7 linked regions of the Homo sapiens genome follow. The protein of the gene in region 2 interacts with the protein of the main gene of each other region in a pairwise test. Each region holds a gene or a part of one and is shown on either strand. Other genes may lie near its edges.

Region 1 (3,250 bases), on a different chromosome or scaffold from region 2:
CTGTTGAGGTCAAGTGCAGCTTTCTTCTTCTTCTTTTTTTTTTTTTTTTCTGAGACAGTCTCTTTCTGTCGCCCAGGCTGGAGTGAAGTGGCGCTCTCTCAGCTCACTGCAACCGCCGCTTCCCGAGTTCAAGCGATTCTCCTGCCTCAGCCTCCCGAGTAGCTGGGATTACAGGCACGCACACACCCGGCTAATTTTTGTGTTTTTTAGTAGAGAGGGAGTTTCACCATGTTGGCCAGACTGGTCTTGAACTCCTCACCTGAAGTGATTGGCCTGCCTTGGCCTCCCAAAGTGCTGGGATTACAGGCATGAGCCACTACACACGGCTTGAGTACGGGTTTCTTCTGTTATAAGAAAGTGAAACCCATAATGAAAATGCATGGTAAGGTAACATAAGAAGTCACGGTAACAGGCAACTCTAGAATTAATTCATATGGAGATGATGGGCTTCAAAGATTGTTTGTTCTCCTGTAGGTAACCATCTGTCCCTGTTCCTTCTGGTAAGTGAGGACCACTTGCATAATTGGCTGGTGATACCTGCTTTGTCGTGGTTTCACTATTTTCAGAATCTGCTGTTTTCCATTAGTCTATCTTTCCATCTGTTAATACCATTTTCTCTTGATTAGTATAGATTTTATTTATTTTATTTTATTTTATTTTTTCGAGACGGAGTTTCACTCTTGTTGCCCAGGCTGGAGTGCAATGGTGCAATCTCAGCTCACCGCAATCTCTGCCTCCCGGGTTCAAGTGATTCTCCTGCCTCAGCCTCCCAAGTAGCTGGGATTACAGGCATGTGCCAACATGCCCAGCTAATTGTGTATTTTTTTTTTTAATAGAGACAGGGTTTCTCCATGTTGGTCAGGCTGGTTTCGAACTCCCGACCTCAGGTGATCCGCCCACCTTGGCCTCCCAAAGTGCTGGGATTATAGGCATGAGCCACTGCGCCTGGCCTATTTATTTTATTATTATTTTTTTGAGATGGAGTATTGCTTTGTCGCCCAGGCCGGAGTGCAGTGACGCGATCTCGGCCCACTGTAACCTCTACCTCCTGGGTTCAAGTAATTCTCCTACCTCAGCCTCCCGAGTAGCTGGGACTACAGGCACCCACCACCACGCCTGGCTGATTTTTATATTTTTAGTAGGGACGGGTTTCTCCATGTTGGCCAGGCTGGTCTCAAACTCCTGACCTCAAGTGATCTGCCTGCCTCAGCCTCCCAAAGTGCTGGGATTACAGGCGTGAGCCACCGCGACTGGCCAAAGACCCTCTCTCTTAACAAAAAAAGGGTTGGTTTGTGGGAGGACGTGAGTATAGACAGAAAGTAAGAGGTGTGATGACCAAGTCATGGGATAAATGTTTGGAGTCCACAGTATCATGAGAACTTCTTAGGAATAAAGTATAGGCCTCCAGGGCTGTTAGTCTTACCTGTCCTCTTTTATATATGTGAGATGTTTCAGGATTCAGTGGCCTTTGAGGATGTGGCTGTCAGCTTCACCCAGGAGGAGTGGGCTTTGCTGGATCCTTCCCAGAAGAATCTCTACAGGGATGTGATGCAGGAAACCTTCAAGAACCTGACCTCTGTAGGTAAGAATGACAATATTACTTCCCAGTGAATTAGAGAACAAATGCTTCTAGCTCATCAATGCTGTTCATTGATTTGGAACATGGACAAAAAATACTTTGATGAATAAATCAGGCATGGCTACCATGTACCATGAATACAGAATCTAATGATTTTTAAATAAATTCATACTAATTCTGGATCTGTGTTTTCTCCGGGTCTGTGTTTTAGGAAAAACATGGAAAGTTCAGAACATTGAAGATGAGTACAAAAATCCCAGGAGAAATCTAAGGTAATTTTCTCTCGCAAGACAAGGCAATGCCTCTAGAAAATCTTAAAATGTGAGAAAATAGGCCGGGTACAGTGGCTCACGCCTGTAATCCCAGCACTTTGGGAGGTCGAGGTGGGTGAATCCCAAGGTCAGGAGTTCGAGACCAGCCCGGCCAATATGGTGAAACCCTGTCTCTACTAAAAATACAAAAAAATTAGCTGGGCGTGGTGGCACATGCCTGTAGTCCCAGCTACTTGGGAGGCTGAGGCAGGAGAATTGCTTGAATCTGGGAGGCAGAGCTTGCAGTGAGCCGAGATCGCACCACTGCACTCCAGCCTGGGTGACAGAGCGAGACTCCGTCTCAAAAAAAAAAAAAAAGTGAGAAAATGTTAAAAAGAAGCAAAAGAAATAAGCCCAGTATCAAATTTATGTATTCATAGAAAGTTTTCCTAAAAACATATGTTTAAATGTAACATACGCTGGGCTGGGCACTGTTGCGCATACCCCCAAATGCCAGTCCTTTGGGGCTTTCAGACCAAAGGATTGCTGGAGGCCAGGAGTTTGAGGCTGCAGTGAGCCATGTTGGTACCACTACACTCCAATTTGGACAACAGGGTGAGTTGAGACCCCAACTCAAAAAAAAAGACGCACATGTTTAGTATTTGTAAAATAGTTTACTTGAAAATAGGATTACAAAGCCCCATAGAAATACTAATTTTAAAAAAATATATATACCCAGACCATCTTGTAGAGCATATAGTCCATTAATATTCAAATGATTCAGACAGAGCAGAAAGCTGACACTTTGCCGGGCAGTGTTAACAATGCAAGTGCAATAGTTGTTAATGATATAAATCATGTTTTTTTCTTCTTTTTTGAGACAAGAGTCTCGCTGTGTCACCCAGGCGGGAGTGGAGTGGTGTGGTTTTAGCTCACTGCAACTGCCACTGCTTGGGTTCGAGGTATTCTCGTGCCTTAGCATCCCAAGTAGTTGGGATTACAAGCGCACGCCGTCACACCTAGCCAATTTTTGTATTTTTAGTAGAGACAGGGTTTCGCCATGTTGGCCAGGCTGATCTCAAACTCCTGGCCTCAAGCCATCTGCCCGCCTCAACCTCCCATGGTGCTGGGATTACAGGCGTGACCCACCATACCCAGCCAATATAGATCACTTTTTTATTTTTTTATTTTTTTTTGAGACAGAGTTTCGCCCTTGTCACCCAGGCTAGAGCACAATGGCGCAATCTCAGCTCACTGCAACCTCTGCCTCTGGGGTTCAGGCGATTCTCCCAACTCAGGCTCCCGAGTAGCTGGGATTACAGGCACCTGCCACCACGCCCAGCTAATTTTTGCATTTTTAGTAGAGACGGGGTTTCACCATGTTGGCCAGGATGGTCTCAAACTCCTGACCTCAGGTGAT
Region 2 (3,500 bases):
GGTCCTCAACCTGCGCTGAACGTTAGAATCACCTGGAATGTTTAAAAAATAATCTCAGGCCAGGTGCAGTTGCTCACACCTGTAATCCTGTAAAAAAGTTGCTCACACCTGTAAAAGCACTTCAGGAGGCCAAGGTGGGCGGATCGCTTGAGCTCAGGAGTTTGAGACCAGTCTGGGAAACACGACAAAACCCCATCTCTACAACAAATAACAAAACTTAGCTGGGCATGGGGGTGCATGCCTGCAGTCCCAGCTACTCAGGAGGCTGAGGTGGGAAGATGGCTTGAGGCCAGGAGGCAGAGGTTGCAGTGAGCCACGATCACACACTATTGCACGCCAGGACGACAGACGGAGCCAGCCCCCGTCTGAAAAAAATTAAAATAAAAAGAATCCCAATGCCCAGGCTGTACCCAGAGGACCTCAATCAGCACCTGTGGGTGGGGCCCGGGCATCTGCATTTTCTAAAGCAACCTAGATGAAGCTCATGCACAGCTAGGGTTAAAGTGAGTGCACCAAAGCAGGATCTCCTGCACTGCAGCCACCTGAGCATCTCCAAACACACATCCTGACCCTGGAGGTCAGGCAGGCCTGACACGCTGCATTTCTAACCGTCTCCCAGGGACATTCTTAGTGACTCGAATGTGTAGCCAGGCTTAGGAGGCACAAGCCCAGGACTGTGGTTCTTAATGTGAGGTCCCCAGATCAGCAGCCTCAGCATCGCCTGAAATTTGTAAGAAATATAAATTCTTGGGTGGCATCCCAGGCCCAGAGACTCAGGGGTGGGGCTGGAAATCTGTGTCTTGACACACCTTCCAGGTGGTTCTTGTAACACTCAGGCTTGGGAAGCACTGGCATAGAGCAGCAGACAGAGGCGGGCCCATGTCCTGCCCAACTCAGACTCCACCAGCAGCAGAGAGAGCGACTCTCGGTGTTTTTGGAAAGCATTTGCACCAGCGAGCCTTCCCTGGGTCCAGAACAATACCCGTGACATTCATAGGTAGGAGGGAGATGGCACATGTTGAGAAGGAAAAAAATGTCATGACTAAATCATAGAGATGGGGAAGCTGAGGCTGAGGGAGACATGGCCTCGAACAAATCTGCAGCCTCAGGCTTGGGATAACAACTCTCACCCTACTGCCCTTCCAGACTCAACTCAGGCACTGCCTACCCCCAGAAGCCTCTGCCGCTCCTTCAGGGACACACACACCTGCCCTGCCCCTCCTCAGGTCCCTGCCCTGTGGTGCTCCCATTCAGGACCCCCACTGTGGCATGAGAAACCCTGAATTATTCCATATATCTCGGTTTTGCATCCCTGTTCAGACTCCTTATTCTTCCTGGTAGAACATAGGACATCCTATTTCTTGCATTTTCATTTTTATGTGTTTGTTTCTTTTTTTCCAATCTTCCACGTTACCACAAACTCTGTACTGCGTACATACTCAATGCTCAGCAAATACTTAAGGCTGATTCACTGAGGTTGGACCTGAGCTTTTCTGTCTTTGTGCCTTGAACACGGTCTGAACTTGGCAAATGCTTCTCCAATGACTGAACGAATCAAGCCAAGGAAAAGGGAGCAGTAAAAAGATAGTGAGGAATTAAGCAGACTGGAGGGTACTCATCTTTCCATGGGCCTTTCTTTGCACTTTGCAATGAATGCTACTCATTAAATCGTGGTCCAAAAATGCCTCCCAGTCATGACTGCTGGTATCGCTCCATTATTCACTGCATTCAACACCATCATCTTTCTCATATGAAACACTGGCAGTCTCTTAAGGAGCAATGACAAAGCCAACCACAAAACAAAACTGATCAAGGAATTAGAACAGGCATGTTTTAATGCTAATTGTAAAGGGAGACTGACCTGTGGACATGAGGGTCTCACGGAAAAACTTTCCTTTAACTACGTCCAATTCTAAGGTCTTGCAATGAAACAGGCATACGAAATAATGACGGTAAACAAAATTACCAAATACTACCGCATTTACTTGCACAGGTCATTCATTCCACAAATATTTATTGACCACCACGTGCCAGCACCATTTTAGTCACTGGGCACATGGCAGTGACCAGCATGGACACAAACCGCTTCCCATATGGAACTTACACTCCAGACCAGTGCTGCCTGCCCAATAAAGCTTTCTGCACTGATGGAATGTTCTGGATTTACATTGTCCAATATGGTGGCGACTAGTCCCAGGTGGCTGTTGAGCCCGTGAAATGTGGCTGGTACTGGTTCGTTGCCTGTTAGGAACCCAGCCACACAGCAGGAGGTGAGTGGCGAGTGAGTAAGCAAGCAAGTGAAGCTTCGTCTGTATTTACAGCCGCTCTCCAACGCTTGCATTACTGCCTGAGCTCTGCCTCCTGTGAGATCAGCAGCAGCATTAGATTCTCATAGGAATGCAGAGCCTACTGGAAACTGCTCATGCCAGGGACCTAGTTTGCACACTCCTTATGATAATCTAATGTCCGATGATCTGTCACTATCTCCCATCACCCCCAGATGAGACCGTCTAGTTGTAGGAAAACAAACTCAGGGCTCCCACTGATTCTACATGATGGTGAGTTGTATTATTACTTCACTATATATTACAATGTAATAATAATAGAAATAAAGCACACAATAAATAGAATGCGCCTGAATCATCCCAAAACCATCCCTCAACCCTGGGCGGTAGAAAAATTGTCTTCCATGAAACAGGTCCCTGGTGCCAAAAAGGTTGGGGACCATTGGTCTAGAGGACTCACCCATTGAGGCAGATGTAAAGAGAATGGTGGTGAAACAGTTTCACTGACTGGTACAGACAAATCATTCCTCTGCCTGCCTTCGGCTGTGCACCTATGACCCCTGTTATGCTCCAAGAGAAGTGAACACACATATCCTATGGCAGGAATACACCTTAGACTTCAGAGCAACTTCTATACATCTTACTAAAGTCTCACCCTAGGCCGGGCACAGTGGCTCACACCTGTAATCCCAACACTTTGGGAGGCCGAGGCACGCAGATCGCCTGAGTTCAGTTCAAGACCAGCCTGGCCAACATGGCAAAACACTGTCTCTACTAAAACCCAAAACATTAGCCAGGTGTGGTGGTGTATGCCTGTAATCCCAGCTACTCGGGAGGCTGAGGCATGAGAATGACTTGAGCCCAGGAGGCAGAGGTTGCAATGAGCCAAGATCACTCCACTGCACTCCACCTTGGGCTACAGGGTGAGACTCCATCTCAAAACAGATAAATAAATAAATAAAAACAAAAAAATAAAGTCTCACCCCCAAACCCACCTCCACAAGCTGGGAGCTGCTCTCCCAGTTGACCAGCAGAGGATGTTACCTCAGAAGACACTCACTTCTTCAGGAAGGACTGACAGGGTAGGGGTGAAAACATAGGCAGGCATGCCAAGTGGCAGCCCTTCCTGGAGCATGGAATCCATGCACCGACTGAGTAGGACCAGGCACACTTCTTCTTTTTCTTTTGAGATGGGGTCTGGCTCTGTCAGCAGGC
Region 3 (3,500 bases), on a different chromosome or scaffold from region 2:
CCAAAGTGCTGGGATTACAGGCCTGAGCCACCGGCGCCTGGCCGCAGCTGCATATTTTTAATTGCACTAGGGACTGGGTGTGGTGGCTTATGCCTATAATCCCACCTCTTTGGTAGTCCAAGATGGGAGGGTCACTTTAGGCCAGATGTTCCGAGACCAGCCTGGGCAACATAGTGAGACTCTGTCTCTACAAAAAATAAAACTTAAAAAAATTGCACTGGTATGTTAATTTCATATGGTATGTGGGTTTATTGTTTCACATAGAGATTAAAATGGCTTCCAGAGGAAAGACAGAGACAAGCAAATTAAAGCAGAATTTAGAAGAACAGTTGGATAGACTCATGCAACAATTACAAGATCTGGAGGAATGCAGGTAAGAGTTTAATTGTATGTTGTTATGCTGGAAACTGGCGTTTTTTCTGCAGCTAGCTCCGTGGATGCAGGCCCATGTGTGATGATTCTGCATTCCCCTGTAGTGTTCTTTGCAGTGCTTTGTCTATTAGAGAAGTAAACTTATTGCAGGCTTTGGAGTCATAAAGGCTGGGAAATGAAAGTCATTCAGTTAACTACTAAGTGCATGTGAACTTGAGCAAAATACTTACCTTCCTTGAAGTAGAAATAACACCTACTTTGTCTTTAGTATTTAAATCAGTCCTACCTGCTGTCAGGCTAAGAAGGTACTACTTGAACTTCTGGCATGTAGTTTCAGCCTTACCTGCACAAAGGACCACAACAGTTCATTGCAGCTTTTTTTTTTTTTTTTGAGACAGAGTCTTGCTGTATTGCCCAGGCTGGAGTGCAGTGGCGAGATCTCAGCCCACTGCAACTTCTGCTTCCCAAGTTCAAGCGATTCTCCTGCCTCAGCCTCCCGAGTAGCTGGGATTACAGGCATGCACCACCATGCCCGGCTAATTTTGTATTTTTAGTAGAGACGGGGTTTTACCATGTTGGCTAGGCTGGCCTCGAACTCCTGACCTCAGGTGATCTGCCCATCTCAGCCTTCCAAAGTGCTGGGATTACAGGTGTGAGCTACGGCACCCTGCTTTATTATGTGGTTTCTTAAGTATCCTCATTTTGGTAAAAGAAAAATGTTTACCAAAGTAACTATATTGCAGGAAAATGCCCTCACTACTACTATGTGAACACATTCACCATCAGCATTTTGATATTTCCCTTCAGTCTTTCTCTAATGTACAAGTATTAAGATTGCATTTTTCACTTGGAACTCTTCATTTTTCCATATCATGATGTTCACCTATTTCAGAGAGGAACTTGATACAGATGAATATGAAGAAACCAAAAAGGAAACTCTGGAGCAACTAAGTGAATTTAATGATTCACTAAAGAAAATTATGTCTGGAAATATGACTTTGGTAGATGAACTAAGTGGAATGCAGCTGGTAAGTATAACATATAGGCGACAGAGGACAGACTTTGTTTTTTTGTTTGTTCTTGTTTTTGTTTGAGATGCATTCTTACTCTGTCGCCCAGGCTGGAGTGCAGTGGGGCAGTCTTGGCTCACTGCAACCTCCGCCTCCCAGGTTCAAGCGATTCTCCTTACTCAGCCTCCTGAGGAGCTGGGATTACAGGCATGTGCCACCATACCCAGCTAATTTTGTATTTTTAGTAGAGACGGGGTTTCTCCATGTTGGTCAGGCTGGTCTTGAACTCCCAACCTCAGGTATCTGTCTGCCTCGGCCTCCCAAAGTGCTGGGATTACAAGCGTGAGCCACTGTGCCTGGCCTTTAGTTTTTTTTTTTTAGAGATGGGGTCTTGCTACATTTCCAAGGCTGGTCTCAAACTCATGGGCTCAAGCAATCCTCCTGCCTTGGCCTCCCAAGGTGTAACTTCTAGATGAGTGTCTGTTTATGCATACACAACATATCCTTCCAGATCTTCATTTAGTTGTGTAATTGCTTCCATGACAGGAACCAGTAAACCTTGATAAAAATTAAGGATCCGTCAATCAGTTATTGCAATATCTGATTTGTTGGACTATTTTGGTTAGTTTTTGCCTTCTTGTGTTTCTAGGCTATTCAGGCAGCTATCAGCCAGGCCTTTAAAACCCCAGAGGTCATCAGATTGTTTGCAAAGAAACAACCAGGTCAGCTTCGGACAAGGTTAGCAGAGGTAAAATTTCTTTAAATTGATTTGGTTGCTGTGTGTTTTTCATTTCCTAGGCCAATTCATTATGATATCCTATGGCTTAAAAATTTGCCAGGTGATTTTAGAGCCACAACTAACAATTTTCTGACAAAATTAGTACTTTGAGCAATTATAGTTGATAATGAATGTAGAGCTTTAAACAATATACGGCAGTTTAAATTGCCACTGACCACTTCTACCTGGACTCCACCTTTAATGTTTTACCATTTACTTCTGGAGCTCTAACTTAAAATCACATTGAGAATTAATTAGCAGCATTGCTTGTATGCATGTGTAGCCTATCTCATCTAAGAATTTCAAGTATCTTTGTAAACCTGATACTTCCAGAAGTCTGTTTATAGGCTTGGATGTAATTAAGAGTTACCAAATTATTTGTAAGTATGGGCAATTCAGTAGCATAGTGATTCAGAGCATGGACTTTGGTCAGACTGGCTGGATTTGAATTCCTGCTTCACTACTGAGGTATGTGACAAGTTTTTTATGTTTTTTTTTTTTTTTGAGATGGGGTCTTGTTCTGTTGCCCAGGCTGGAGGGCAGTGGCGCAATCTCGGTTCAGTACAACCTCTGCCTCTGGGTTCAAGTGATTCTCTTGCCTCAGCCTCCTGAGTAGCTGGGACTACAGCAGGCACATGCCACCACGCCTGGCTAATTTTTGTATTTTTAGTAGAAATGGGGTTTACCATGTTGTCAAGGCTGGTCTTGAACTCCTAACCTCAAGTGATCTGCCCGCCTCAGCCTCCCAAAGTGTTGGGATTATAGATGGGAGCCACTGCGCCTAGCCTTTTGTTTGTTTTTTGTTTTTTTGTTGTTGTTGTTGTTTTTGAGGCAGGGTCTTACTTTGTCACCCAGGCTCAGTGTAGTAATGCAATCTCGGCTCACTGTAGCCTCTGTCTCCTGGGCTCAAGCGTCTCCCATCTCAGCCCCTCAAGTATCTGGGCCCACAGGCACAACACCACCACACCCCACTAATTTTTGTATTTTTCATAGAGACAGGGTTTCACCATGTTGGCCAGGATAGTCTTGAACTCCTGAGCTCAAGCAATCCACCCACCTCAGCCTTCCAAAGTGGTGGGATTACAGGCATGAGCCACTGTACCTGGCCTGGACAACTTATTTTATTCATCCCCTTTGTGCCTAGGTTTCTCTGTCTGTAAAAACATGACAAAGATAGTCCTTACCTCTTATGGTTCTTATGAGGATTAAATGAAGTAATATGTGTAAAAGTACTTTGAATATTCCCAATGTGTGGTACATGCTATTAGTGTTTCTGGTGGAAGAGGTGATATTTTACTAGATGATTTACTAGAACTGCATTTAACATTTCTATCATATTT
Region 4 (3,500 bases), on a different chromosome or scaffold from region 2:
GGATGGTCTCGATCTCCTGACCTCGTGATCCGCCTGCCTCGGCCTCCCAAAGTGCTGGGATTACAGGCGTGAGCCACTGCACCCGGCCAAGAGTTGGCAAATTTTTTTCAGTAAAGGACCAGATAGTAAATATTTTAGGCTGGGAGGCTGAGGCAGGAGAGTGGCGTGAACCCAGGAGGTGGAGCTTGCAGTGACCCGAGATCGCGCCACTGCACTCCAGCCTCGGCGACAGAGCAAGACATCGTCTCAAAAAAAAAAAAAAAAAAAAAAAAGAATCTTAGGCCTTGCGAACCATGCAGTCTCTGTTGGAAGTACCTAACTCTGCTGTTTAGCAGAAAAGCAGTTGTAGACAATATGTAAATGAATGGGCATGGCTGTGTTCTGATAAAACTTTGCTTATGGATGCTGAAATTTGAATTTCATAAAATTTTCACGTGTCACAAAATATTCCTTTGATTTCTTTTAAACCATTAAAAATGTAGAAACCATTCCTAGCTACAGAAGCAGGTGTAGGCTAGATTTGACTCTGTAGGCTACTGTTTGTTGACCCCCTTGTCAAAACTATGATAGAGCTAGGAAATCTAAGAAAAACAATTAAATGTCAGGAAAAGGAGGGTTTTTTTGAGAAAAAAAATTGGGTGAAACTGATATTTTTATTACAAATATTATTAAATCCTGTGTGTTACTAAATACTTATGTTTAAAGAGCAATTATATTAGTTAATAGGTACATTTCAATTTCCTAAAATAAGAAAGTACATTTAGGCTTCCTAAAAGGTACATGCAGCAGTCTATTTCTTTTCCCTCGCAGTTTGAAAATTTCCTTTTAATTGTCTCACAAGGTAGAGCCACTTGTGAATATGTTAAAACTTAATAATTGCTTGTTAAAACTTAGCAATTTGGGCCACGCTGACTTTAAAAAAATTGAGAAATTTCATAAGCATGAAAGAACTTAAACACGTGTGCAGTTGAATAAAAAGTGATGATGATGAGAATATTGCCATGTGACTGCCTCCCCAGGTCAGGAAATGGAAAAATAGCACAATGCTGGCTCCTCCAAAGACTCACCCATCCCTCCCCTTATTGTGCTTTCTAGAACACAATCCTGTCCCTCTTCCACAGGAGTAACCATTATCCCGATTTCCTTGTTTTCTTTATGGTTTTACTCTATATATTATGTCTTCTGAAACAATATGGGGTAGTTTTGCCTAATTTTGAACTTTAAATTGATGTAATCATTCAGTGTGTATGCTTTTGGATTTTGCTTCTTTTGCTCAACATTATTTTTGCAAGCATCACCCTTGTAGTGCTTGCCATTATGATTTGTTGGGTGTAATCTTTCTGCTGAAAGATTATACCAAAGTTAATTAATTCAGTCCATTGTTGATGGACATTTGGTTTGTTTGCAGTTTTTGACTATTATGACCAATGCTGTTGTGAATATTCTTGTATATTTATCTAGATGTATATATACCTAAGAGTCAAATTGCTGAGTCATAGGCATATGCATTGTCAGCTCTAATAGATACAGTCAAACTGTTTTCCTGAGTGGTTATACCATACCACACTCCCACCAGTAGTGTGGCATTTTTTTTTTTTTAAAGTCAATATAAACACCTTAGTGTAACATCTGACTTTGAGCCAGGTCAGCTTTGTCATAGTACTGGAATGGTGGCTGAAAAGCAGCCCCAGGGCACTGTTGCTTTGCACCCCTTACTCTGACTGTTTCCCCTCCTTCAGGGGTGGGCTGTGAACATCATCACGGCAGATCATGTTTCCCCACTCCATGAAGCCTGTCTTGGAGGTCATCTCTCTTGTGTGAAGATTTTATTAAAGCATGGAGCTCAGGTAAGGGCAGCTGAAACAACATCTTAGAAACCAAGAATGAAAAATGACTATGTATATCCCTTCTGAATAACTTCCAGCACTTTTGATTAGACTGATTTGAAATATGAAGACAGTTGTTTTTCAAGAAAATTATGTTCATCAGGCTTGTTTGCTTTAGTGATGGATGGATGAAATACTAAATTTTTAGTCACGCTTACAGTCTATATCATTTTCTTTATCATACACTACTAATAAATAGTTATTAGACTTCTGTCTTCATTGTTATGGCCGGAAGGTAATGAAATATTGTGGAAAGCACACATTTGCCTGGGATGGCTAGGATGTCTGAGGAGACAGAAAATCTATGTGGTCATTCATCCTTTAGCTGGCAACCTGGACTTGTTCACATGGTAGCAGGGATTGCAAGAGCAGCAAAAATGGACCTGTTTTGTGTTAGGCAACTGAATGGTGGGTTGGGGAAAATTATGGGCTTGCTATCTTCTGGCAACAGCAAATGCAAAGTCCCAGAAATGATAGTGAGCAATTTTTATATCTTGAAGTCATTCCTTACGGCAGGACAGTAGAGTAGGTGAGAGGGTTCAGAACATAAGCAACCTTGTCCATGCCAAAAAAAGAATGGGCTTTGTCCTGAGATCAGTAAAGAGCCAGAGGTGAGTGCACTGCCAGATTTATATTTGGGTTAAGAAAACATTCAAAACTTGGAAACAGGGAACGTGTCAAGGTGAAGCAAGAGACACCTAGGGTACAAACTTGAAAGAAGTGCTCGCTCTCAGGGTCCTGCACTATTTGTGTGACTCCAAAAATGAATATGTCCTTAAATTTTTTACCCTGGGCAACTTTTATGTCTCACTCTGGTCCTGGCCCTGCTTGGAAGTAGAGTTTGAGAAGGAATTCGTTGTCTTCACAATATCATTGCTTAAAAGATTCACCAGATAATCATTTAATGATATACAAGAATGTGTCTGCACTTGGCTTTTCTATTCACTATTTAATTATAGCCCAAACACTGTGAAGTTAGACATTAACTTCGAAATTTCTGTCTGATTTCCAACATTAGAAAAGATAGCCTCAAAGATTATACTTTTATGGCCCTATAGGACATTAACCAGTTTTTATGTTTTTATTTTTTTAATTTTTGAGATGGAGTCTCGCTCTGTCGCCCAGGCTGGAGTACAGTGGCACGAACTCAGCTCCCTGCAACCTCCGCCTCCTGGGTTCGAGTGATACTCCTGCCTCAGCCTCCTGAGTAGCTGGGATTATAGGCACGCACCACCACACTTGGCTCATTTTTGTATTTTTAGTAGAGATGGGGTTTCATCATGTTATCATGTTGCCCAGGTTGGTCTCGAACTTCCGACCTCAGGTGACCCGCCCACCTTGGTCTCCCAAAGTGCTGGGATTACAGGTGTGAGCCACCGTGCCCGGCGGAGTTTTGTATCTATTAGCAAATATATTTCAGCAGTCCATTGACTATATACGTTTTTCTTTTTTCTTTCTTTTTTTGAGACAGAGTCTCACTCTGTCGCCCAGGCTGGAGTGCAGTGGCGTGATCTCGGTTCACTGCAACCTCTGCCTCCCGGGTTCAAGTAATTCTCCTGCCTCAGCCTCCCGAGTAGCTGGGACTACAGGCGCATGCTACCATGCTGGGCTAAT
Region 5 (4,082 bases), on a different chromosome or scaffold from region 2:
GTTTCTGCAGCTCCTTCATTTGTTTTAAAAATGTCTCGGATTCGTGACTCTTTCATTATTCCATATACATTTAAAATCAACTAGTCAAGTTCCACTGAGCACAATTGGAATCTTGATTTGCTTTGTACTGGATTTGTGTATCAATTTAGGAAGGAATGATATCTTTATGATATTGAGTTCTCATATATATAGGTGTATATACATGTCTCATATACAGGTGTATACACATGTCTTATATACATAGGTGTATATACATGTCTTATACATAGGTGTATATACATGTCTCATATACATAGGTGTATATACATGTCTCATATACATAGGTGTATATACATGTCTCATATACATAGGTGTATATACATGTCTCATATACATAGGTGTATATACATGTCTCATATACATAGGTGTATATACATGTCTCATATACATAGGTGTATATACATGTCTCATATACATAGGTGTATATATATGTCTCATATATAGGTGTATATATATGTCTCATATATATAGGTGTATATATATGTCTCATATATATAGGTGTATATATATGTCTCATATATATAGGTGTATATATATGTCTCATATATATAGGTATATATTTCAACTACTTATCCCTAATGAATAAAGTTACTAATGTTTCCATTCAGGTATCTTTTGTAAGTATTTGCTTCTGTGATAGATGTCTTTTAAAAATTCTATTTTTATAATTTTGATGGAGAATGTGATTGTGAACATGAATTTTAAAAAGTCCAGCCAACTTGCTAAACTCTCTTATTAATCATCATAATTTGAGTGTTAGATTATCTTGGATTTTTTATGTAAACCACGCAGCATGTTCCTTAAAATTTATGTATTTAGAATTCATATTCTAATTAGGCAATGCAATCAACTCTAAAATTAAAAGTACATTTAAAACATGCACCCTAACACTTTCCTTCTCACTCTTGTCCCCGTTTTCACTCAGTTTCTGACCGTTCACCTCTCGTAGGTAACCACCATTATTAATTTTCCGATTTTTCCAGGGCTTCTTTGTGCCACACACGCACACATAATTTAGATTCTTTTTACTCTCTTCTATTCGCAAATATAGCAAATTATGAAAATAATTCTGCACCTTGCCTTTCTCCCTTAGTTATAGCTGGAAAAATAAAAATTTAAAAGCCTCTTTAATAGCAAAAGGGGAGGGGACACAAGGTGCCGAGCTAGCAAACGACAGAGTCTGTCAGGGAGGTGGCTAGAGAGGCCCGGAAGTGGCTTCTGTGCCCCGCCCTGCGGGTGGTTTGCTAGTTTCAAGCACTTTGTGAGTATGGGGTGAATCGGCGTCGGCCTTCCACTGTGGGGTTAAATCTCATCCCGCGGCTCTCCTCCTGTCGGTCCTGCAGTTCTTTTGTCCCCGGGTAGAGGTGCGTTTGCAGGAGTATGTGTGTGTGTGTGTGTGTGTGTGTGTTTGTGGAGAGAGGCCCTTCCCTCCCCAGTTCCTGCAGCCTCGGCTCCCAAGGAGGGAGACCCCTGCGAGAAGCCGTGGGGGAGGGAAGGGCGCTCTGCGGCGGAATGAAGTGGTCCTCGGCGTTCCTGCGTAGAGCCCAATATGGGTGTCCCTTGTTTAGGGCCGTTACCGAGTGTCCGGGTCGGTTCTTGAGGGTATTTGGAGACGGGATGCATGGGTCACATAGACAAGCCTCGAGAATGGGAGCCGTTACATTTTTGCACTGCCTGGTAACAAGGTCAGTTTCAAGGTCTTTAAATTATTCTGTGGTACTGGCCAAGAGCCAGAACGTTGGAGTCAGATTACCTGGTTCAAATCCTGCCTCTGCCACTTACTGGCTGTGTGACTTTTCACTAGTTCCTAAGCTCTCTCTCTGCCTCATTTTACTATTTTGTAAAATGGGGATAATATTCCCTAACTCACTGGGTTGTTGTGAGGATTGAATGCATTCGTATGGGTAAGGTGCAGAGTAAGCATGATTTAAAGATTTGCTTTTATTAGTGGTACTATTATTATTTATAACTATGATGACACATTAGTGACTGGCTTTTGTACGGTTGCTTTCAATTTTACTGTCATTCATCAATTCACTTTGTAATGGATGATTTCTATATTTTAGGAGGGAAAAATAAGATACTCTGAAAAAGAGCCTATCCCAAAGCAAAGACCAAAACTGGTTTGTGTTGGACGTTGTGATACTCAAACTCTCAAAGGCTTTAAGACTCGGGGGTACCTTTTCCTTGGCTGGAGATTAGGAGGAACAATAGAAGTTTTTAATAGTGAAAAAGGACTAGGACCCCTGGTTTTTGCAAAAATCTGATGTCCTGCTTAGTGCTGGAGATCCACCAGTTTTCGAGCTTCCAGGAACGCCCTAGCCTGAAACTGGCTTCATACTAACACCCTTCATTTCAACCCAACTTTTACAGGGTTAGCTCTTTCATAGACTTGTAACTCTTTTCTGTTAATGAGAAACTTTCCTTTCCTTATCTTCAGTATATTTACTGATTTGATAAATACTTTGTGTTGGCAACCAATTTCCCAATCTTGTGCCTTCCCACTGTGATCAGTTTGGCTCAGATCCAAGTAGGGGCCAGGTAGTGAAACCTAAATGGAGTTTGTGGAATAAATGATATAAATGTATCAGTGTTGTTTTCCTGCCATAGACTTCCTCCCTTCCCCACCGTGGACACCCTCCTCATTCCACTTGGGCTCCAGATTCACTCTGGGTTGGGCTGTGGCTCTCTCTCGCCTTCCTTGACCCTACCTTAATGCTTTTTGGCTGTATTATTCAGGAAGGAAAGAAGTTAGGACATTGTTTAATTTTCTAAAATTTTGGAGAGAAATTTAAACACATTTAATTGTAGAGAGAATGTTACAATGAACACCAATATAACCATGACTCAGCTTCAGCCATCATCTTTTGGTCATTTTCTTTCATTCTTCTTTTCCCTCCTTTCCACTCTCTTTCCTTCCCTTCTCCTCCTCCTTCCCTTTTGTCTCCCTCCTTCCCTTTTACTTCCTCCCTCTTTCCCTCTCTCCTTTCTTTCCCTCTCCCTCCTTTCTTTGTCTTCCTTTCCTTCCCTCCCTCTCCCCCTCTTTATCTCTTTTTTTTCCTCATTTCGTCCCTCTCTTCTCTTTCATTTTATAGCAAATTGCAGATGGAAACATTTTAGTTCACTCACAAGTACAAGTACTTCAGTGTCAATTTCTTATATACAGGGACTTTTATCTTAATATAATCATAGTATCATGATCACACGCAAAAAAATTGACAATAATTCCTTGATATCATTATCTTGATTTTCAAATAATTGTCTCAAATATTTCTAGAGTTTTTTTTTTTTACAGTCTTTTTACAGTTGTTGTTTTCAGTGGGGTCCGAATATGGTTCACCATTTGCATTTATTTGATAAGTCTGTTCAGTCTTCTAATCTATGACAGTTCCCATTCCCTCCCACTCCTTTTGGTAAAAATGCCATTTATTTGTTGAGGAACTTGAACCTTCTGTTTTATAAAATGCCTCACATTCTGGATTTGGTCGATTGCTTCTTTTTAGTATCTTTAACTTATTAGATCTCAAACTCAGCTGCACATCAGAATGACCTAGAAAGTTTTAAAAGTTATTGATGTATTAAAAGTCCCACCCCCAGAGAGTGATTTAATTGATTTTTTTTTCATTGCAATCTCCATCTCCCAGGCTCAAGTGATTCTCATGCAACAGCCTCCCAAGTAGCTGGGATTACAGGTGTGTACCACCACACCCAGCTAATTTTTGTATTTTCAGTAGAGACAGGGTTTCGTCATATGGGCCAGGCTGTTCTTGAACTCCTGACCCCAGGAAATCTGCCTCAGCCTCCCAAAGTGCTGGGATTACAGGTGTGAGCCACTGCACCCAGGCTGATTGATCTTGATTGTACCCAAGGCATTAGGATGTTTTAAAAGCTCCCCAGTGATTCTAATATGTAACAAAGTTTGAAAGCCTTTAATGTAATTTGCTCCTATATTTCACCTGTACACTGGTATTTGGATCTAAAGACTAGATTAGATTTAGGCTCACTTATTTTGGTATTATTAGCTCATGTAGGAGTACCCCAGA
Region 6 (3,500 bases), on a different chromosome or scaffold from region 2:
GCTCAGGGGCAGGTGGGTTGCTGCAGCCCGTGTCTCACTCAGACTGCCGGGGTGGTTGGGCTCCTGTGGCCACCTTTGTGGGGAGGGGTCAGGTCAAGATGTCCCCAGTTTCTTGACTTCTGACCTCATATGTTTTCCCATTAAGACAAAGATTTAGGCTGTGGTTCACGGCAGCTCTTTGCACCAATGTTGGCTTGTCATTGGTGCGGCTGTGTTGGGGGCAGAATCCTTTGTGGGTAGCCTAGGAACCTGACCCTTCCAGCAAGAGTTTCTCTGACAACACATGCCCCCTCTTGCCTTAACAGTCAGTGGAAACACTTAAAAAAAAAAACAAAAAACCTTTATTGAGATATAATCTCATATACCATATAAGATCACCCATTTAAAGCATACAGTTCAATGACTTTTAGTATATTTATTCAGAGATTTGTACATCACCACAGTCAATTTTAGAACATTTTTATCACCTCAGGAAGAAACCCCCCACCCTTTAGCTAACTCTTCGCCAAACTTCTTATCCCCTCTCCCAGTCCTAAGCAACCACTAATCTACTTTCTGTGTCTGTAGAATTCCCTGCTCTGAGTTCTCATATGAATGGAATTTTATAATATGTTGCCTTTTGTGTCTGGCTTCTTTCACTTAGTATAATATATTCAAGGTTCATCCAAGTTGTAGCACGTAACTATTTCTTTCCTTTTTGTGGCCATTGTATGAATATACCATATCTTGTTTATTCATTAACCCATCGATAGACATTTGGGTTATTTGCATTATTTGGCTTATGAATAATGCCACTCTAAGTATTCATGTGCAAGTTTTTGTGTAGACGTATGTTTTAATTTCTCTTTCATATGTTTTCATTTCTCTTGGGTATATACCTAAGAGTGGAATTGCTAGGTTACTGATAACTCATTGTTTAATTGACTGTTTACCAAACGAGCTGTACTGGTTTACATTCCCACCAGCAGCATGTGAGGGTTCCAGTTTCTCCACATCCTCATCAACACGTCATTATTCACTCATTTGTTTTTGGAATCTAGCCAGCCTAGTGGGTGAGAAGTGATAGCTCACTGTGATTTTGATTTGCCTTTCTTTGATGACTAATGATGTTGAGCATCTTTTCATGTGCTTATTGGTCAATTGTATATCTTCTTTGCAGAAATGTCTATTCAGATCCTTTACTCATTTTTTATTTAACTTAATTAACTTATTTATTTTGAGATGGGGTCTGGCCTTTCACCCAGGATGGAGTGCAGTGACATGATCATGGCTCATTGCACCCTCCACCTCCCAGGCTCAAGTGATCTAAGTAGCTGGGACTACAGGTGCATGCTGCCATGCCCAGCTAATTTTTAAATTATTTGTAATTATTTTATTATATCATTTAATTGTTTTGTTTAGTTATTTGTAGAGATAGAGTCTACAGACTGGTCTTAAACTCTTAGGCTGAAGCGACCTGCCTACCTGGGCCTCCCACAGTGCTGGGATTACAGGCATGAGCCACCACACCTATCCCTTCACCCATTTAAAAAATTGGGTCATCTTTTGATTATTGAGTCATAGGAGTTTTATAATTTTAGCTGTTACACTTAGGTCTTTGAGCCATTTTAAGTTAATTTTTGTGTATAGTGGAAGGTTCTTTTGCATGTGACTATCCAGTTGTCCTAGCCCCCTTTGTTGAAAAGACTATGTTTTTCCCACTGAATGGTCTTGTCACCCTTGTCGAAAATCAGTTGACCATAGATAAATTGGTTACTTTCTGACTCCCACATTAGTTCCATTGGTCTACATGTCTGTCTTTATGCCAATATTATACTGTCTTAATCACTGTTGCTTTGCAATAAGTTTTGAAATTGGAAAGTGTGAGTCTTCCTACTTTGTTTTTCTTTTTCAGGGTTATTTCAGTATTTTGGGACCCTCGCATTTTATATGAATTCTATTTTCTTTTTTCTCACAACCCAGTGTAGGCAGAATATATGAATTCTAGATTCAGCTTGTCAATTTCTACAGTCAGGTGGGATTCTGATAGGAATTGCACTGAATCTATAAAGCAGTTTGGGGAATAGTACCATGTTAACAATGTTAAGTCTTCTAATCCGTGAACATGGGATGTTTTTCCATTTATTTGGATCTTCTTTAATTTATTTCAACATTATTTTATAGTTTTCAGAGTGTAAGCTTTGCACTTTTGTTACATTTATTCCTAAGTGTTTTATTCTGTTTTTTGTTTTGTTTTGTTTTTTTGTTTTTTTTTTTGAGATGGAGTCTCACTCTATTGCCCAGGCTGGAGTGCAGTGGCACAATCTAGGCTCACTGCAACCTCCACCTCCTGGGTTCAAGCAGTTCTCCTGCCTCAGCCTCCCAAGTAGCTGGGATTACAGGTGCCCACCACCACTCCTTGCTAATTTTTGCATTTTTAGAGAGACAGGATTTCACCATGTCGGACCAGGCTGGTCTCCAACTCCTGACCTTGCTGGGATTACAGGTGTGAGCCACCGTGCCTGGCCACTAAGGGTTTTATTCTTTTTGATACAATTATGAATCAAATGTTTTTCTTAATTTTATTTTTTGATTGTGTATTGCAAATGTATAAAATTACAATTGATTTCTGTATGTTGACCATGTATCCTGCAACATTGCTAAACTCATTCATTCAAGTAGATTTTTAGTGGATTCCTTTCCTCAGTATTTTTTTTAACATATAAGATTATGTTATCTGTAAATAGATTTAGTTGTATTTCTTCCTTTCCAATTTAGGTGCCTTTTGTTTCTTTTTCTTGCTTAATTGCTCTGACTAGAACTTCCAGTAGAATATTGATTAAAGGTTGTTAGAGGCTGGATGCGGTGGCTCACGCCTGTAATCCCAGCACTTTGGGAGGCCGAGGTGGGTGGATCACGAGGTCAGGAGATCGAGACCATCCTGGCTAACATGGTGAAACCCCATCTGTACTAAAAATACAAACAATTAGCCAGGCTTGGTGGCGGGCGCCTGTAATCCCAGCTACTCAGGAGGCTGAGGCAGGAGAATGGTGTGAACCCGGGAGGCAGAGCTTGCAGTGAGCCAAAATCACGCCACTTCACTCCAGCCTGGGCGACAGACCAAGACTCCATCTCAAAAAAAAAGGGGGGTGGTTAGAGCAGGCTGGGCATAGTGGTTCACGCCTGTAATCCCAGAACTTTGGGAGGCTGAGGCAGCCAGATCACTTGAGGTCAGGAGTTTGAGACTAAGCTGGCCAACATGGTGAAACATCATCTCTACTAAAAATACAAAAACAAAAAAAAAATTAGCCAGGCATGGTGGTGGGCACCTGTAGTCCCAGCTGCTTGGGAGACTGAGGCACAAGAATTGCTTGAACACAGGAGGCAGAGGTTGCAGTGAGTCCAGATTGTGCCACTGCACTCCAGCCTGGGTGACAGAGCAAGACTCCATCTAAAACAGTAAATAAATAAATAAAAAAGAAAAGAAAAGTGGTTAGAGCAGACATCCTTGTATTCTTGTC
Region 7 (3,500 bases), on a different chromosome or scaffold from region 2:
AATCCCACACCTCCCTCCAGCCCAGGAAGAGCTCCCTGCCTGGAGGCTACCACAGCTCCTTCGGCTCTTCCCTGACAACCTGCCAGCCCTGTGTTCATGAGCTCTCCTGGGTCCTCTGGGACCTGACCTGAGGCTCCCCACCACCAGAGCACATCCCTGCTCTCACTCCCCTCCCCATCAAAGATCCCAACTCGGGCCCAGCTCTCGCCCAGGTCACCAGGGTTCTCCCTGACGGTGCCTGGGGTGCAGCAGGAGGGCTCCCACCTTCCCACAGCTCCCTGTGGACCATGGCACCCTCCGCCTCTTCCCTCTGCCTCCAGGCCTCCCGGGAGGGCTCCTGTCCACATGGAAAGATGCAGGCCAGACACTGCCGGCTCCTCTTTACTCTCTGCTCCGGAGGGAGGCAGGAAGGAGTCTCAAGGGCCACCACAGTGCCTCTTCCCCCAAGACTCCAGAGCACCAGAAGTGGAACCCACACAGCTGGGGCTGCAAGCGTGGGGCACAGGTGAGGAGAAGAGAGTCACAAGCAGAGCCTAGGGCAGGCACTGAGAGGGGGCCACCTGCATAGCTCTGTGCCTGCCCAGGGCCTGGCTCTCTCACCCACAGAGGTGGCTGGTCCCACCCTATTTCACGGAGGTGGAGACCAGGGCTCTCCTGAGCAGCCTAACAAGAAGCAGCAATGACTACCGGCCACCCCTGCTCCCGTGGGGCCCCGCACTAGGTTTTTCTGCAGGCTCCTGGGGGTCCACTCATGGCCTCAGCTCACCTCACAGCAGGAGCCCTCTGCATGCAGCCCCCGCCTGAAGGACGGCTGTCCCGCACAGGCTCACCTCAGGGCTGCCCACTGCTTGGGGCTTGCCTGATGGGGGCACCCTGGGCCACCCAGCCTGAAGAGACCAGGCAAGATCTGGGGGCTGGAGCCCAGGAGCTGTGGACAGGCCCAGCCCCCAGCCTTGGCATGAGACGGCACCCAGGTAGCAGGGAGTGGGCCGTCTGCTGGGAGCTGCTCTGGGCTCAGCCACACTCACCTTCTTCCAGGTCATTTCGGGCAGCGGCCTCCAGAAGGACAACACTGGGAGGGAAGAGGACCTGCTTCAGGAGCCCTTGGCTGGCTGCCTCCTTCCGGGGACGCTCCCCAGGACCCTTCTTGCCCTGGGCCTCCTTCTCAGCCTGGGCCCACATCTTCACCTGCTGGGCGCGCCGCTTCTGGGCATGCTTCAGCCGCTCCTGTGTGCTCATCCTGCCCACCATGGGCATCTCTGCCAGCAGCTCCAGGTGCTCGGCCATGGCGGCGGCTGCTTGCCCACAGGGCTGCTCGGGGCACCAGAGTGGGGAGCTTGGGGGCCAGGCTGGGCCTGAGGGGTGGGGCAGCTAGCTGGACTGGCACCCTCGGGGGCATCCCCTTCCCAGAGCTTCGTGCCCTTGGCTGGGTCAGGAGGCCCCACACAATAACCAGGCCCAGGCAGCCCTGGGGGGCATGGGCCGGGGCAGGGAGGGCAGTGTGGGAGGGCACCCCAAACCTGCTCCCCAGGCCAGCCTCTAGCTGTCGACAAGCAGCGCCTCGCCTCCCTCTCGGGGTCAGGGTGCACAACCTATGGGAGGCAGCCCCGAGACCTGGCCGGCCTCAGTGCAGGGTCTGAAACTAATTACCCAGATAACAAGGTTCCAGCTTCCGGGCACCCTGCTGAGGGGGAAGGGAGGGCAGGGCCAACCAGCAGTGAGAGCCCCTGTGAGCCCCTGAGAGTCCTCTTTTCACCTTCTAGGCTCAGGAGCCTGGGTGGGGCCTGGGAGCAGCCATGACCCAGCCCCCAACCCCTCCCAGCTGTGTGCCGAGGTCAGTGCATCAGTACTAACGAGGAGGTGCAGCCGCTGAGGCTGGGGGAGGGCAGGTAGTCAGAGTCCTGGAGTCCTGGCCCCAGGGCCCAGGGGTGAGGCTCTCTAGGCAGCCAGGGCACCAAGGGCACAGGCGGGCCGGCCGCAGTGTCTTCAGGAGCACCTCCTCTTCCAGCAGCTGCTCACACCTGAGAAGTGGGGAACAAGGAAGCATATCAAGGCCGGCTTGAGGCAGGGTGGCCCGGGGGAGCCCCTGCCCTGGGCCTCAGGTGAGACCAGGCTTCCAGCTGTCTCAGGTCCTGCCCTGTGTGAGGCCCACCCTTTGTCCACAGAGAGCACTGCAGGTCAACAGTCCTGGGGGTACGGGGAGCTACTCTGCCCCCATTCTGCCCCAGGTTCAGAGAGGGGCGGGGGAAAGGCATGTCAGGCTCCTCCCACCCACCCTTTCCAGAAAGGGCCGCCCACCCCAGCGAGGCGTTCCCTGCTAGGCTGCTCCTCCAGGGCCAGGCGCTGCCCTAAGGCTGGGCAGGGTGAGGTCTCGTGGAACAGCCTTGAGGGCTTTGCAGGCTACTGCCTTCCAAGGGCAGGCCCCGCCTCCTGGGCCTCCACCTCTCCTGCCTTCCAAGGGTAGGCCCCGCCTCCTCCTGTCCTGACTGATACCCCAGCCTCTCACTGCCCAGTCTCTAGACCTCTTCCTTGATGGGCTCCCACAATGCCTCTGCCATCCTAGGCTGCAATAAAAGCCCCCACCTGGTGCCTGGCTTGAGGCCTATGGGGACAGACAGGCAGGCAGACAGCTTCGGCTGGGGCACAACCCTGCCTATGTACCTGCTATGGCCCTAGTCCTGCCCGACACACTAAGTGTGGTTGCTGGGCTGGCCACAGGCCTCACCTCAGAAGGCACTCTGTGCTTGGCCAGGCGCGGTGGCTCAGGCCTGTAATCCCAGCACTTTGGGAGGCCAAGGCGGGTGGATCACGAGGTCAGGAGATCGAGACCATCCTAGCTAACAGGGTGAAACCCCATCTCTGCTAAAAATACAAAAAAAATAGCTGGGCGTGGTGGCACGTGCCTGTAGTCCCAGCTACTCGGGAGGCTGAGGCAGGAGAATGGCGTGAACCAGGGAGGCAGAGCTTGCAATGAGCCAAGATCACGCCACTGCACTCCAGCCTGGGTGACAGAGCGAGACTCCGAGAAAGAAAGAAAGGAAGAAAGAAAAGAAAGAAGGCACTCCGTGCTCTGCAGAAGATGCCTGCCAGGAGTCCTATTCTCCACCCAGCCAGGCCTCATGGCCATCTACACACTGACCCAACTCTTCACTGCTGGACTTCTACCCAGGTGTTTCATAGAATGCCCCCTTCTTTCAGAAAGGGAACTGTCCTGGGCCAGGTCAAATTAAGCCAGTCAGGTCCTTCCTGCTCAGGGGCCCCCAATTTATCTGGGAGCCCCACTTTACAGGTTCAGCCTACTCTAGACATAGTCCCCCCCTGTAGGCCTAGCCTCAGAGGCTTCCTGAGGACACGGCCAATAAGGCCAGTGGCCCTGACCTGGCTTTCTGCCTGCCAAGTAAAGAGCTTTTCCAGGCAGTAACTCTCCCTCCGAGCAGCCTGCTCCTAAGCCTGGCCAGCTCTGTAGACCGCAGAGGCCAGGGCAAGCACACACTGGCCAG

The links.
Region 1: the proteins of JPH3 (region 2) and ZNF20 interact in binary tests that used the Homo sapiens proteins (3 or more experiments, as listed by UniProt).
Region 3: the proteins of JPH3 (region 2) and LZIC interact in binary tests that used the Homo sapiens proteins (3 or more experiments, as listed by UniProt).
Region 4: the proteins of JPH3 (region 2) and ASB9 interact in binary tests that used the Homo sapiens proteins (3 or more experiments, as listed by UniProt).
Region 5: the proteins of JPH3 (region 2) and ZKSCAN3 interact in binary tests that used the Homo sapiens proteins (3 or more experiments, as listed by UniProt).
Region 6: the proteins of JPH3 (region 2) and ANKRD13D interact in binary tests that used the Homo sapiens proteins (3 or more experiments, as listed by UniProt).
Region 7: the proteins of JPH3 (region 2) and PPP1R16A interact in binary tests that used the Homo sapiens proteins (3 or more experiments, as listed by UniProt).

What each region holds. Positions count from the first base shown.
Region 1 is NC_000019.10:12,134,101-12,137,350, reverse strand, and holds part of ZNF20 (zinc finger protein 20), read left to right. Parts: intron 1-1,446; coding exon 1,447-1,582; intron 1,583-1,790; coding exon 1,791-1,851; intron 1,852-3,250. UniProt on the Homo sapiens protein: May be involved in transcriptional regulation.
Region 2 is NC_000016.10:87,609,008-87,612,507, reverse strand, and holds part of JPH3 (junctophilin-3), read right to left. Parts: intron 1-3,500. UniProt on the Homo sapiens protein: Junctophilins contribute to the formation of junctional membrane complexes (JMCs) which link the plasma membrane with the endoplasmic or sarcoplasmic reticulum in excitable cells.
Region 3 is NC_000001.11:9,933,392-9,936,891, reverse strand, and holds part of LZIC (protein LZIC), read left to right. Parts: intron 1-264; coding exon of another isoform or gene 265-272; coding exon 273-373; intron 374-1,264; coding exon 1,265-1,400; intron 1,401-2,031; coding exon 2,032-2,130; intron 2,131-3,500.
Region 4 is NC_000023.11:15,253,084-15,256,583, reverse strand, and holds part of ASB9 (ankyrin repeat and SOCS box protein 9), read left to right. Parts: intron 1-1,739; coding exon 1,740-1,847; intron 1,848-3,500. UniProt on the Homo sapiens protein: Substrate-recognition component of a cullin-5-RING E3 ubiquitin-protein ligase complex (ECS complex, also named CRL5 complex), which mediates the ubiquitination and subsequent proteasomal degradation of target proteins.
Region 5 is NC_000006.12:28,348,665-28,352,746, forward strand, and holds the start of ZKSCAN3 (zinc finger protein with KRAB and SCAN domains 3), read left to right. Parts: upstream 1-1,282; 5' UTR 1,283-1,403; exon of another isoform or gene 1,404-1,724; intron 1,725-4,082. UniProt on the Homo sapiens protein: Transcriptional factor that binds to the consensus sequence 5'-[GT][AG][AGT]GGGG-3' and acts as a repressor of autophagy. Specifically represses expression of genes involved in autophagy and lysosome biogenesis/function such as MAP1LC3B, ULK1 or WIPI2.
Region 6 is NC_000011.10:67,292,303-67,295,802, forward strand, and holds part of ANKRD13D (ankyrin repeat domain-containing protein 13D), read left to right. Parts: intron 1-3,500. UniProt on the Homo sapiens protein: Ubiquitin-binding protein that specifically recognizes and binds 'Lys-63'-linked ubiquitin. Does not bind 'Lys-48'-linked ubiquitin.
Region 7 is NC_000008.11:144,494,982-144,498,481, reverse strand, and holds part of PPP1R16A (protein phosphatase 1 regulatory subunit 16A), read right to left. Parts: exon of another isoform or gene 2,022-3,500; 5' UTR 1,288-2,021; coding exon 1,029-1,287; intron 506-1,028; exon of another isoform or gene 487-505; coding exon of another isoform or gene 265-486; exon of another isoform or gene 1-264. UniProt on the Homo sapiens protein: Inhibits protein phosphatase 1 activity toward phosphorylase, myosin light chain and myosin substrates.